2 separate regions of the Homo sapiens genome follow, and region 1 is linked to region 2. The links come from fine-mapping of genetic effects on gene expression. A gene starts in region 2. The other region holds a variant in brackets. All regions are shown on one strand. Distances are from middle to middle. Region 1 overlaps FBXW4 (F-box and WD repeat domain containing 4). Region 2 holds the start of BTRC (beta-transducin repeat containing E3 ubiquitin protein ligase).

Region 1 (5,339 bases), 260 kb after region 2:
AGTTGGCCCCTGAGCCTTATACCTCCACCACAGGGGGTGCCGTGAGACTTCAAGGCTTGGCCCTTCTTGACCACGGCAGCCTCCTGTCTTCTAGGAGCTATCAAGGGTCTCTAAGAACTGGGCATGGGGCACTCCTAGCCAGTGAGTCATGGTCATATTTCCTGAGTAAAGTCATTCTGAGTTACTTACTGCACAGGGACTGCCCTCTTGTTCCCCTCTGTATGCTGCCTGGCCCCAGACCCCACTGGCCTCCCTCGGGAGGGTGTGATGACATTCCTTTCTCTATCCCGGAGACCTACAACATAAAGCTTTCCACAAAAAGGGAGAATAGGGTGGGAGCACATGGCCCTAGCAGGGCAGGGCTGGCCTTTCCCTGCAACCTGTTTACACAAACTCAGAGGAAGACCAGGCTGGAGGGACCCTGTGCTACCGTAGCTTGCAGAAGTGGCTCAGAGGAAACTCCTGAAGATGTGTGGGCAAGGGAAAAGTTTTAAAAATGCAGAAACCGGCCAGGCGCAGTGGCTCACGTCTTAATCCCAGCACTTTGGGAGGACGAGACGGGCGGCTCACCTGAGGTCAATAGTTCAAGACCAGCCTGGCCAACATGGTGAAACCCTGTCTCTACTAAAAACACAAAAATTAGCCGGCCATGGTGGCGCATGCCTGTAATTCCAGCTACTCGGGAGGCTGAGGCAGGAGAATCGCTTCAACCTGGGAGGCGGAGGTTGCAGTGAGCCAAGATCATGCCACTGCACTCTAGCTTGGGCAACAGAGCAAGACTCCGTCTCAAAACAAAACAAAACAAAAAAACAAAAACAAAAAACAAAACAGAAACCTTGGAAGTAGAACACAGGATGTTAAGGCATTGTGGGTAAAAAGCCAGAATCAGGGTCATAATTTTGCCAAGGGTGTGTGTTGGGGTAGGGGTCACCACAGGCAACAACTGAGCTTCCAGCAGCCTGTACCCTTTCCACAGTCCCCTCTCCAAACCCACAGGTGACCCTCCATACCCCAAAGGGTAAGGGATAGGTCATCAATGGGAACTCTTCCTGAAAAAAAGAAACCTTTGTTCTTTGGGACACAGAGCCATGAGGCTGGTCTTGTCGTTTCAGCAGCACATACAACCCTGAGCTTGGGTCTGCTGTTCCCTTCTCCTGGAGCCTGCTAGGACTACTCAGCCAGTGAGGAACCAGATCTGTGAACAATCAAGCTTTATTTTTACAAAAATGAAAATTGTAGCATGTCTCAACAGCCAGCCTGAGGTAGGGCTGGCTCAGAACTCACTCAGAACTGCTGGGTTCCCTTTGCTCTTTCTTGGTTTCAAAGCAAAACCAGGCCACAGTGCCCCAGGAATGAACCCCCAGCCCCGAGAGGTTGGTCAAGGGTGAGGTCTGGCTGGTGCCAGGAGGCTATTGGCAGCCTCACCTTTCCTTCCAGGAAGGGGCAGAAAGGAACCATCTGGGAAGGTGGGAGCACCTCACCTCACTCTGTAGGCTGTCATGGCTCTAATAAGGGGTATAGGATGGGCCTCTCCAGGCCAGATCCTTGCTCTGGCCAAACAGGGACGCAAGGCCCGGGTTCAGCCGCACTCTAAAGCAGCAGGTCCTGCCTCTCCAACAGGTTCCTGGGAGGGACTGCATCTCTGGTAAGCTCCAAAGTCCCAGGAGTCAGAAGCCTCTAGTGCAAGGTGCCTGAGCACTGGGGTCACAGGCCCAGGAGCACAGTGGGGCAGTGAGGAGGAGCTATCACTGCACCCTCCAGGCAAGAGAAGTCCCTGAGTAGCTGGTTTCCCTGGCCCAGAGGCAGGGGTGGCCCTGACGGTCATGGGTTTTGAAAATCCAGGACGTGGAGGTTGTAAGACAGGGCAGCATAGAGATGCTTGGTGGTGAGACGCAGGCAGTACACAGGGCTGCTGAGGGGAGTCGACGTCAGCGGGAAGGCCTGGAAGGGAGGGCACAGGAAGTGGTAAGAGCTTTCCAAGTGGGACATGGGTGTGCCCTAACCCAGGATCCCCAGGCCCAGGGGAAGAGGGACGTGTGCCATTGTAGGCTTCTTCCAACCCTTTCTAGGCACGTCCTTGGCTACCTCACCCTCTCCCAAATGCAGCCCATAATCATGAGTCCTGGCATGCTGGAGAAGAGGTGGGCAGGACACTTACGTGCAGGCAGGCCCTTTGACGCCGGTCCCACAGCCGTACAACACCGTAGTAGGAGGAACCTGTGGCCAGCAGGTGGTTGCCATCTGTCTGCAGGCAGTACAGGGTGCTGTCGTGGGGCTCCTCCCACTCCATGACACATTTCCTGTCCAGGAAGAGGAGAAGCAGAGGGAGGTTTAGGGTACCCTCCACCTCTACCCCAGCTTTCTTGGGCCTAGAGTGGCTGAGGGGAGCGTTAAGGAGCCATTCCGGGATGGAAGAGAAAGAAGCCTAAATCATCAGATTCATCAAAAACCGAACTTCATGGGAGAAAGCATCTTCTGTAGAGGGCTCTCGCCATGGCCCAGACGACACAGCAGATTATGCCTGCACTTCTGTTTTCACATGGCCAGCTACTTGTCACTGGACTCAAGAAAGGTTGAAGTAACACAGGCCTCAAGAAAGGCTGGGAGAGAATATTGAGTGACAGTACCCTGACGGCTCCAGAGGCTCTGGGAAACGCCTGCCTTTGCCAAGGCCTGTTGGCTATAGCCAAGCCACTGGGACCAGGGCTGCCCAAATGTAGGAAGTCTAGTGACCTTGCAGGCCTCTTCCTTCCCAGCCCTGACATGGAGTCTCTGTGCCCTCTCCCATGGGCCAACCCAGGACTGGAGGAAGGACCAGGATTGGTGCAGGGCCCCCACCACCTGTCCTCCCTGCCCAGCACACTCACCGGACGCTGGTGCGGAGGTCCCAGTAGCGAACATAGGTGTCATAGCCACAGGACAGCAGTGTGAAAGGGGACTCATACATGACATCCAGCACCCCAGCCCCTGGGGGAAAGTCACTGCCCAAGTGTGTCATCAGCTGCCCACTGGGAAGGGAAGGACGGAGTGAGAGGCTGCTCCACGTGGGTCATACACATTCGTTCCACCTTCAGAAGGCATCAGACCTTGGGGAAATGTTCTCTTTCCTCAGCTAGAATGAGACTCAAGGAAGGGGGCTCAGGGAGGAGATGCCCAATTCCTACCCACCTCACCCCTGCCATGAGGCCTCTGCAACCAGTCCCAGGCCCCACCCCTCCCCCAGCATCCCAGCCCTCAGCAGCCCCTCCATCACACCTGCGTGCCGGCTGCCACCCACC[C/T]AGCCACTCCTCCTCAGGACAATGAATGGGGGGGCTTGCTGAAGGGGTCGGCCCCCCTCACATTCACATGCACATGCACACACACACACACACTTGGTTACTTTATACATCTTGATCCTGCAGGTCATGCAGTTCTGAGCTGCCTGAGTCCAATGCCTTAATTCCTGCCTGTAATCTGGGGCTCAAACCTCATTGGGGATAAAGACCACACAAAGGGAGAAGGGGAGTCCCAGGAGATGTTAAAACAAGTAAACACCTTTGTGTCTGGGGAGAAAAATCGCTGAGAAAGCAGCTTAGCGAGCTGTCCCTGGTGTTCCTGGTCTAGCTGGCCCCCAGCCCGGGGCTAGCACGCCTCCGTGATCACAGCCCCCAGCCTGTGGGGCTCCAGCCTGCTCCCCCCACCCTCACCCCACCCGGGGGCCGAGAGCAGATTACTGAGAACAATTTCTTTGTGACTGTGTAATTCCCTCCGTGACCGCGGCAGTGGGCAGACCCTTTGCCCTGATGCCAGACCCCTAGCAACTATGTAGGGGGGCCTCCTGTCCCTAGCAACTACCCCTCAACATCAAGTGCACCCGCTAATCCCTGCAGCCAGGGGATGGGTGCAAGTATGGAGTTTCCACAGAATGACTGGGGGAAATGAAGGAAAAGGGGCGCCCTCCAGGCCTGATGCCTTAGCTTCCTTTACCCGTGAGACGCTGGGCTTTCCCCATGCCATGACAGGAGAAACAAGGCCGTGGACACTTCACAGGGATGTCCAGGTAAGAGGCCCTGGCATGGAGTGAGGGGACTTCATGGCTCACCAGCCCTTTTGGCCCAAGTAGCATGTCAGCAAAGGGCTTGAGGCAGACAAGGCAGCCAGCCACATGTCTGAATGCAGATGTCAGCTCTCGTCCTTCCACCTCACTGAGACCCTGACCCACAACCTCCCTTCTCCCCAACAGAGCTGCCATCTTCCCGAAGGCCGAAGGAATCAAAGGAGGAGACTGGGGGTTCCTTTCTGCCCCTTCCACCTTTCCCCTTTGAGCCCTGGGCAGTGGGCCCTGGCCAGGAGCACTGCTGCTGCCAGGGGGGAATTAATCCCCAAGGCAGCACCCCTGCTACCAGCCTCCTCAGGGAAGTTCTGGTCTTCCTCTCAGTAGCCCAGAGCTGGGCCTGCGGGGAGAAGATGGCAAGCCTCTGTCTGTTGGGGGGCTCCTGAGAGGGATCAGGCAGAAGGCCTTCTCCCCAGATCAGCATCCCTTAGAGACTGCTAACCTTGGCTCCCAGAGAAGCCCTGCCTTCCCAGATGGGCCACCAGCCAAGATTCAGCCACCCTGGGCAGGCCAGAGCCCTGTAGGGGAGTCATTCTCTCTCTTTCACAGGTATACTGGGTGCATGCTGGGTAGGGGCTGTTTGGCTCCACAGTTCTCCTCCCTCTTCCAGATTTGGGGGCCCTGCCCCCTCCATTAGTGAGGCCTTAAGGAATGATTGAGGAGCTCTCCCCTTTAATCTATAGAAGTAATTTCATGTTTGTTTGAAATAGAAGATGAAAGGCAGTGGGGGTTGGGAGGACTGAAGCCCAGCATGGCTCTACCTGCCCACCCTGGTCCCTGGGTTCAGAGGGAAGGAGAGCTGGGCACTCATGGGGCTGCACAGGGACAGCAGTATAAAAGGCCCACCCAGACTGGGCTGCCAAGCTGGGCCCCTACCCCAGCATTCATGCCACCACTGGAAAATGTCATGGCCGTAAGTATCTGCAGTCAGAAATACAGGACAGCCCAAGGGGTCCCTGCCCTCGGGGGGAGAGCCAAGGGCCCAGTGAGCACCAGGCCCTGGAGGCCAGCACAAGTCCTGAGAGCCCCTGCTCTGCCCGCACAGCCTGGCAGGGGCTGAGAAGTTTCTTTCTGCTGTGCTGTTCTCTGGTTCTCTAAAATGGCCACACACACTTTAAATGGGCCAATGAAAAGATACAATTTCTTTTGCCCCTGGGCCCAGGACCCTCAAGGCTCTGTTGTGTGGTGCCCGTGAGGTTAAGTTCAGAGCATAAACTGACACGCCAGGCTCTGGGAAAAGGCCCAT
Region 2 (5,370 bases):
ACTGATTCTATCTTCTTAGTATCTCTGGAATCCATCTACTTCTTTCTGTTCTCACCACCACATTCAGGCTGCCATCATCTCTCCCAGGAATATTTCAGCAACCTCATAATCCTTTCCCCAAGCTTCCAGCTGTGCTCCATTTTAATCTCTCCTCCACCCTGGACTCTGAGTGATTTTCTGAAAATGCAAATCTGACCATTTTTTAAATTGTTCAGCTAGTTTCTCACAGCTCTCAGGATACAGTCTAAATGACTGAACTTGGCCTATAAGCTGGAGTGAAAGTCAAGGTATTTTATATCTGGTAAGGTACAGGCCCTGATGCCAGTTTAGAAAGCATGTCAGCTGATTTATCTGACCAGTTTATGCCGGCTAAATAATGGCTTGCCTATAGAGCCCCATACTCTTCTGCAGTCTCATCTAGGGCCACTCTTCCTCTAAAGTCCCACTGATCTTGTTTTGGTTCTCAGAATCAATCACCAAAAATGCAGTTACCTTTGCCTGGAATACTCTTTTCCAGTGGCTGCACCATCATCCCACCTTATCTTTTCATTTATTTATTTATTTATTTTTTTTGTAACTCCATCCTGTTACTGCCTTAGTCCTCTGAAAACCTCCAGCTAGTTTTCATACGAATGCGTTTGAAGTCTTCTCCATTTTGCACTTGTGTAGAATTTTTTTAAAAATTCAAGAACAAAACTTTTTATTAACTGAAAGCCTATTATGTATTAAGTATCATGCTGAGTTTTGTGGATATAGGGGCTAGGACAAAGTATCAACAGAGTAAAAGTGTAAGCTCCACGAGGAAATAACTGGGTCTGTCTTGTTCATTAATGAATCCCCATTCCTTTTTCTTTTTGTTTAATTAATTACTTTTATTTTTATTTCAATAGTTTTTGGGGTACAAGTGGTTTTTGGTTATATAGATGAATTATAGTGGTGAAGTCTGATATTTTAGCCACCCAAGTAGTGATGAATCCCTATTTCTTGAGATGATGTCTGCACACGGTTATATGCTTACCATTTGTTGGATGACTGAGTGAATAAGATAGTTTAAAATGGAGATTTTTTCCTATAAGTCAAAAAGTATTTTCCTAGTTCATTTATTTTATAAATTCAGATATTTTGTACAAGGCTGTCACAATCTAACTCACTTTTTTTTTTTTTTTTTTTTAGACAGAGTCTCGTTCTGTTGCCCAGCCTGGAGTGCAGTAGCGTGATCTCGGCTCACTGCAACTTCCGCCTCCCGGGTTCAAGCAATTCTCATGCCTCAGCCTGCCGAGTAGCTTGAATTACAGGCGCGTGCCACCAGGCCCGACTAATTTTTGTATTTTTAGTAGAGACGGGGGTTTCTCCATGTTGGCCAGGCTCGTCTCGAACTCCTGACCTCAGGTGATCCACCCGCCTTAGCCTCCCACAGTGCTGGGATTACAAGCGTCAGTCACCGCGCCTGGCCCTAAATCACTTTTGTTGTTGTTGTTGTTGTTATACTGTTCTTTTTCATTGCTAAGTAATATTCCACTGTGCTACATATGGAATATGCTACAATTTGTTCATACAACCACCTGCTGAGGGGCATTTGGGTGTGTGTCAGTTTTTTAGGCTGTATAACCAATTATCACAAACATAGCAGCTTAAAACAACCTAAATCACTTTTAACCAAACCCTAGAGTTTTCTCCTCCTAAGGTAGACCCAATTTCCAAAATAAACCCATATTGTACCTTTTCAGGCCAAAGAAAATATTTATATGCTTTATTTGCTGGAGGCCATTATATTCCACCGTTGAAGGACTTTTGTTAAGTACCTGTTTGACCCTTAGTGCAGGGCTTACATCCCACAGTTAGCAATAGCAAGTTATGTGCTTTTTGAGCTCTAAACACTGAGAATTTCTTGAACCGAGTTCTATTCGGCCCTGACTTGCTGTGGGGGAGAAAAGATTCCTCGGGAGAAGTGTGGGTGGCGATGGCTTAGGAGGACCTTGAAATTCCGCATTTGTCTGTGAGCTGCTGCCAGGTGCCCATTGGCCCAGCTACTCTGGGTCGCAAACCTGCAGATGCCAGATACATGAAATTTGGGGACGTTCAGCTTCCTAAAACCACAGTTAGGCAGGTCCTAGGACCCGTGATTCTTGCCACAGTTTTTCTTAGTATTTGGGCTACAAGTGAGGCATTGGCCGCCATCTTGATATCAAATGCCAGGCAAGCCGCTACTGGCGTCGCTCGGTAACCACGGAGACACCCGTGCCCCTCCCGTTTCTCATCCTTAGAGGCTGTAAACTACAATTCCCATCAGCCGATTTCCTCTGCGTAATGGCAACTTATCTAAATCTGGCTTGTGGGCAACCGCAACGCTGCCGCAGTGAACTGTGGGAGTTGCGGTTCACGGCGTAGCCTCAGTTTTTTTCCTGGGGGAAGTTCCAGAACTACAAATCCCGTGAGCCAGTGGGCTTTCGCCTGCGCACGGAGAAGCCGATTCTCCTTGGCCCCTCAGCCTGCGCCTGAGAGGTAAGAGAGGGCGGGGGGAAGGAAGAGGAGGCGGGATCCGGGCGCTGCGTTGGCTGCGGCCTGGCACCAAAGGGGCGGCCCCGGCGGAGAGCGGACCCAGTGGCCTCGGCGATTATGGACCCGGCCGAGGCGGTGCTGCAAGAGAAGGCACTCAAGTTTATGGTGAGGAGACGGTGGAGGCCGGGGAACGGTGGAGGCGCTGGCGTTGGCGGCGTCGCTGGCCTGGGCCGCCCGCCCACTGCGGGACCGGGCAGCGGGACCCTGGGCCGAGGCTGGCGGCGGAGCGGCTGGAGGGATGGGATGGGAGCTCCAGAAAGGAGGCTGGGGGTTGCGGAGCGGACCCAGGGGTGGGGGCAGCGGCTCCGCCATCTTGTGGATGAGAGGCCAAGTGACAGCGGGAGCTTAATCGAGGAGGGGGCTCCAGGCGGCGCGCGGGGCCCTGGAGGGAAAGGGGCGTGGGGACTGTTACTGAAAAGCGGAGGAAGCTCTCTGGAGAAACGCCGTGAGGCCGCTGGCGGGGCCTTCCTGGTGTCAGGGTTACCGGTAAGGCCCGGGAGAGGAGGTGCATTCACGACTGGGGAAGGGAGCGCGGGATAGAGTGAAGACAGATACGGTGGGTAGAGGGGAACGGGCAGGGCTGGATGCAGATGGATTTAAGGGTGGAGGAGGGAACGCTAGGGCTGGTGAGAGGCTTATAGTTTTGTAGAATGAGGAGGGAGGATAGCCTTTGCCTTGAGGGTGGAATCCCAGCTTGGCCAAACTACTGTTGACAAACTCTGGAAGGGAAGAGGCCTCACTAAAGAAGATAAGGACTGGGAATGAGGACCTAGGGCTATAATGACAGTCCCTGGGAGGGGAAAAGGGTGTTGACTGTAAGCTAGAATTACAAATGTCAGGGAGGGGTACATAACGCTACTTTGAAAGGAGAAGCTAAATACTGTAATAAGGACAAGGTGATGAAAAGTAAGAGCAGATTGTCAGGGAAACATGGGTACAGGAGATTGGGGCAAAATGAGTATCTAATAGGGTAAGCAAAACAAAATTTAAAGGTAAATTGTGGGACGGTAAAATGTGGAGGCCAGGTGCTTTGTATCATTTTCTGGGAAAGGAAAGGCCGTGGAGATGAGAGTTGCAAAGACCCATAAGAAGTGATGAGATCAGTTGAGAAATTTAGGAGATAAAAAGGGTGGAGGTTGGTAGAGGGAAGTAAGTCAGGGATAAGTCAGGATTTGTGGTTACCCGTCAGTTTTAGGTTGAAGCACAGTGTGAGCAAAGATTGGATTTTGTGGGTGTGCTTAAACCCCTTGGAACATATTTCTTTAACTTTGTATCACGCTTTTCTTTTTGCTGTGCTTATCTTTGGCAAACTCGTATAGTCTGATATTTGATGCTTTTAATCTGATGCTTTTTGTATTTCCTAGGTGTAAAACCAGACTTTGTGGTTACAACTAAAGAATGATGGAATGCATAGATTTTAAGCTTAACAGGTGGCCTTAGGGACATTGATATTATTTGCAGTCCAGTCTTGCTTTTTCAGAAGTTATTGTGACTTGTCACTCCAAATCTTACTCCTTTGCTTAAAAAAATAGCTATTTTGTATCTTTGCCTAAAATACCGTAACAAATCCAGATAAACATGGATACTAACAAAATTGAATTTTAGACTTTAAACTGCCCCATTTATAAGAATACTTTTTTGGAATCTAGTCAAATTCACTAAAACTTTATCTTGCATTAGTGTTTTCGAAAACACCTAATTAAAATTCAGGGGTATCATTAACAAAATTTCATTGAGCCTGAAGAAGGTTCTTGGATTTCTGCCCAACATTAAAATTCTAAATATGAAGAAGAGACCTTGAACTTTTACTGGACTTTAGAAGTAAGTGAAAGTTACTACACTTAAGTTAGAAAACTGTTACTGCTTATTTTTGTTTTCCTACTTAGAGGGTTGACTCCTTTTTTTCTTCTTTTGAGATGGAGTCTTGCTTTGTCGCCCAGGCTGGAGTGCAGTGGTGCAGCCTCCGCCTCCTGGGTTCAAGCGATTCTCCTGCCTCAGCCTCCCGAGTAGCTAGAACTACAGGTGTGGGCCACCACGCCCATCTAATTTTTTATTTTTAGTAGAGTCGGGGTTTCACTATGTTGGCCAGGATGGTCTCATCTCCTGACCTCGTGATCCGCCCACCTTGGCCTCCCAAAGTGCTGGGATTTCAGGTGTGAGCCACAGCGCCCAGCAGAGGGTTGACTCTTAATCCTAATCCTGACATTTGTGTCAGATTTATGGAATAATGTGATTTACAGATCATAAAGAGACATTATGAGATCATCCTTTTTACTCTCAGTTAGACTTCAGCCTAGTAACATTCTCAGCTACTTAATCTCTGCTTTGTACCAGTGAGTTATGTTTTGATAATGGCCTCCCTGGTTGAGTTAAAGTGGACTTGGAGATGACCATATAGTAGTTGCAGCTTTTAGAGCACCACACATTATTAAATCTTGAATCAGTTTTCATAGGGAGAAGCCAATTTTTTCTTTTAATTTTAGTTACTTTCATTATTGACCTTGCCTGCTGTTTTGGCTGCCATTTGAGAAAAGGTCAACTAGAAGAGGGTCACCAGAATGACACCTTAATAAAAGAAACAGAGAATGGAGAGTTTGAGATTGGGTATTCTCTTTCAGTGCAGTAACAGTCTTATGAATCTGAGTAAGTCACAACTTCCCTTTGGTGCCATTTACCCTGCTATAACATGTCTGTTTATTCAGAGTCAGTTTTAAGAAAGGAAGATAGGCCGGGTGCGGTGGCTCATGCCTGTAATCCAGGACTTTGGGAGGCCGAGGCAGGCGGATCACGAGGTCAGGAGATCGAGACCAT

Evidence for each region. PIP is the estimated chance that this variant, and not a neighbour inherited with it, causes the effect.
Region 1: its variant is fine-mapped to the expression of BTRC in sun-exposed skin (GTEx, PIP 0.93).

Annotation. Positions count from the first base shown.
Region 1 is chr10:101,609,470-101,614,808 of GRCh38, forward strand. It overlaps FBXW4 (F-box and WD repeat domain containing 4), which reads right to left. Exons shown (of 9, transcript NM_022039.4): 7 at 2,868-3,008; 8 at 2,159-2,300; 9 at 1,197-1,941. The coding sequence ends at 1,822. It overlaps DPCD (deleted in primary ciliary dyskinesia homolog (mouse)), which reads left to right. Exons shown (of 6, transcript NM_015448.3): 6 at 1-193. The coding sequence ends at 2. Among named protein-coding and RNA genes, the nearest start is that of MIR3158-2, 11 kb to the left of the region's middle. RefSeq lists enhancers at 1,907-2,407, 3,565-4,098, 4,099-4,632. The variant C/T (reference allele first, on the strand shown) is at 3,279.
Region 2 is chr10:101,351,565-101,356,934 of GRCh38, forward strand. It overlaps BTRC (beta-transducin repeat containing E3 ubiquitin protein ligase), which reads left to right and starts at 2,601. Exons shown (of 15, transcript NM_033637.4): 1 at 2,601-2,664. The coding sequence starts at 2,617. RefSeq lists an enhancer at 1-376 and a silencer at 2,645-2,824.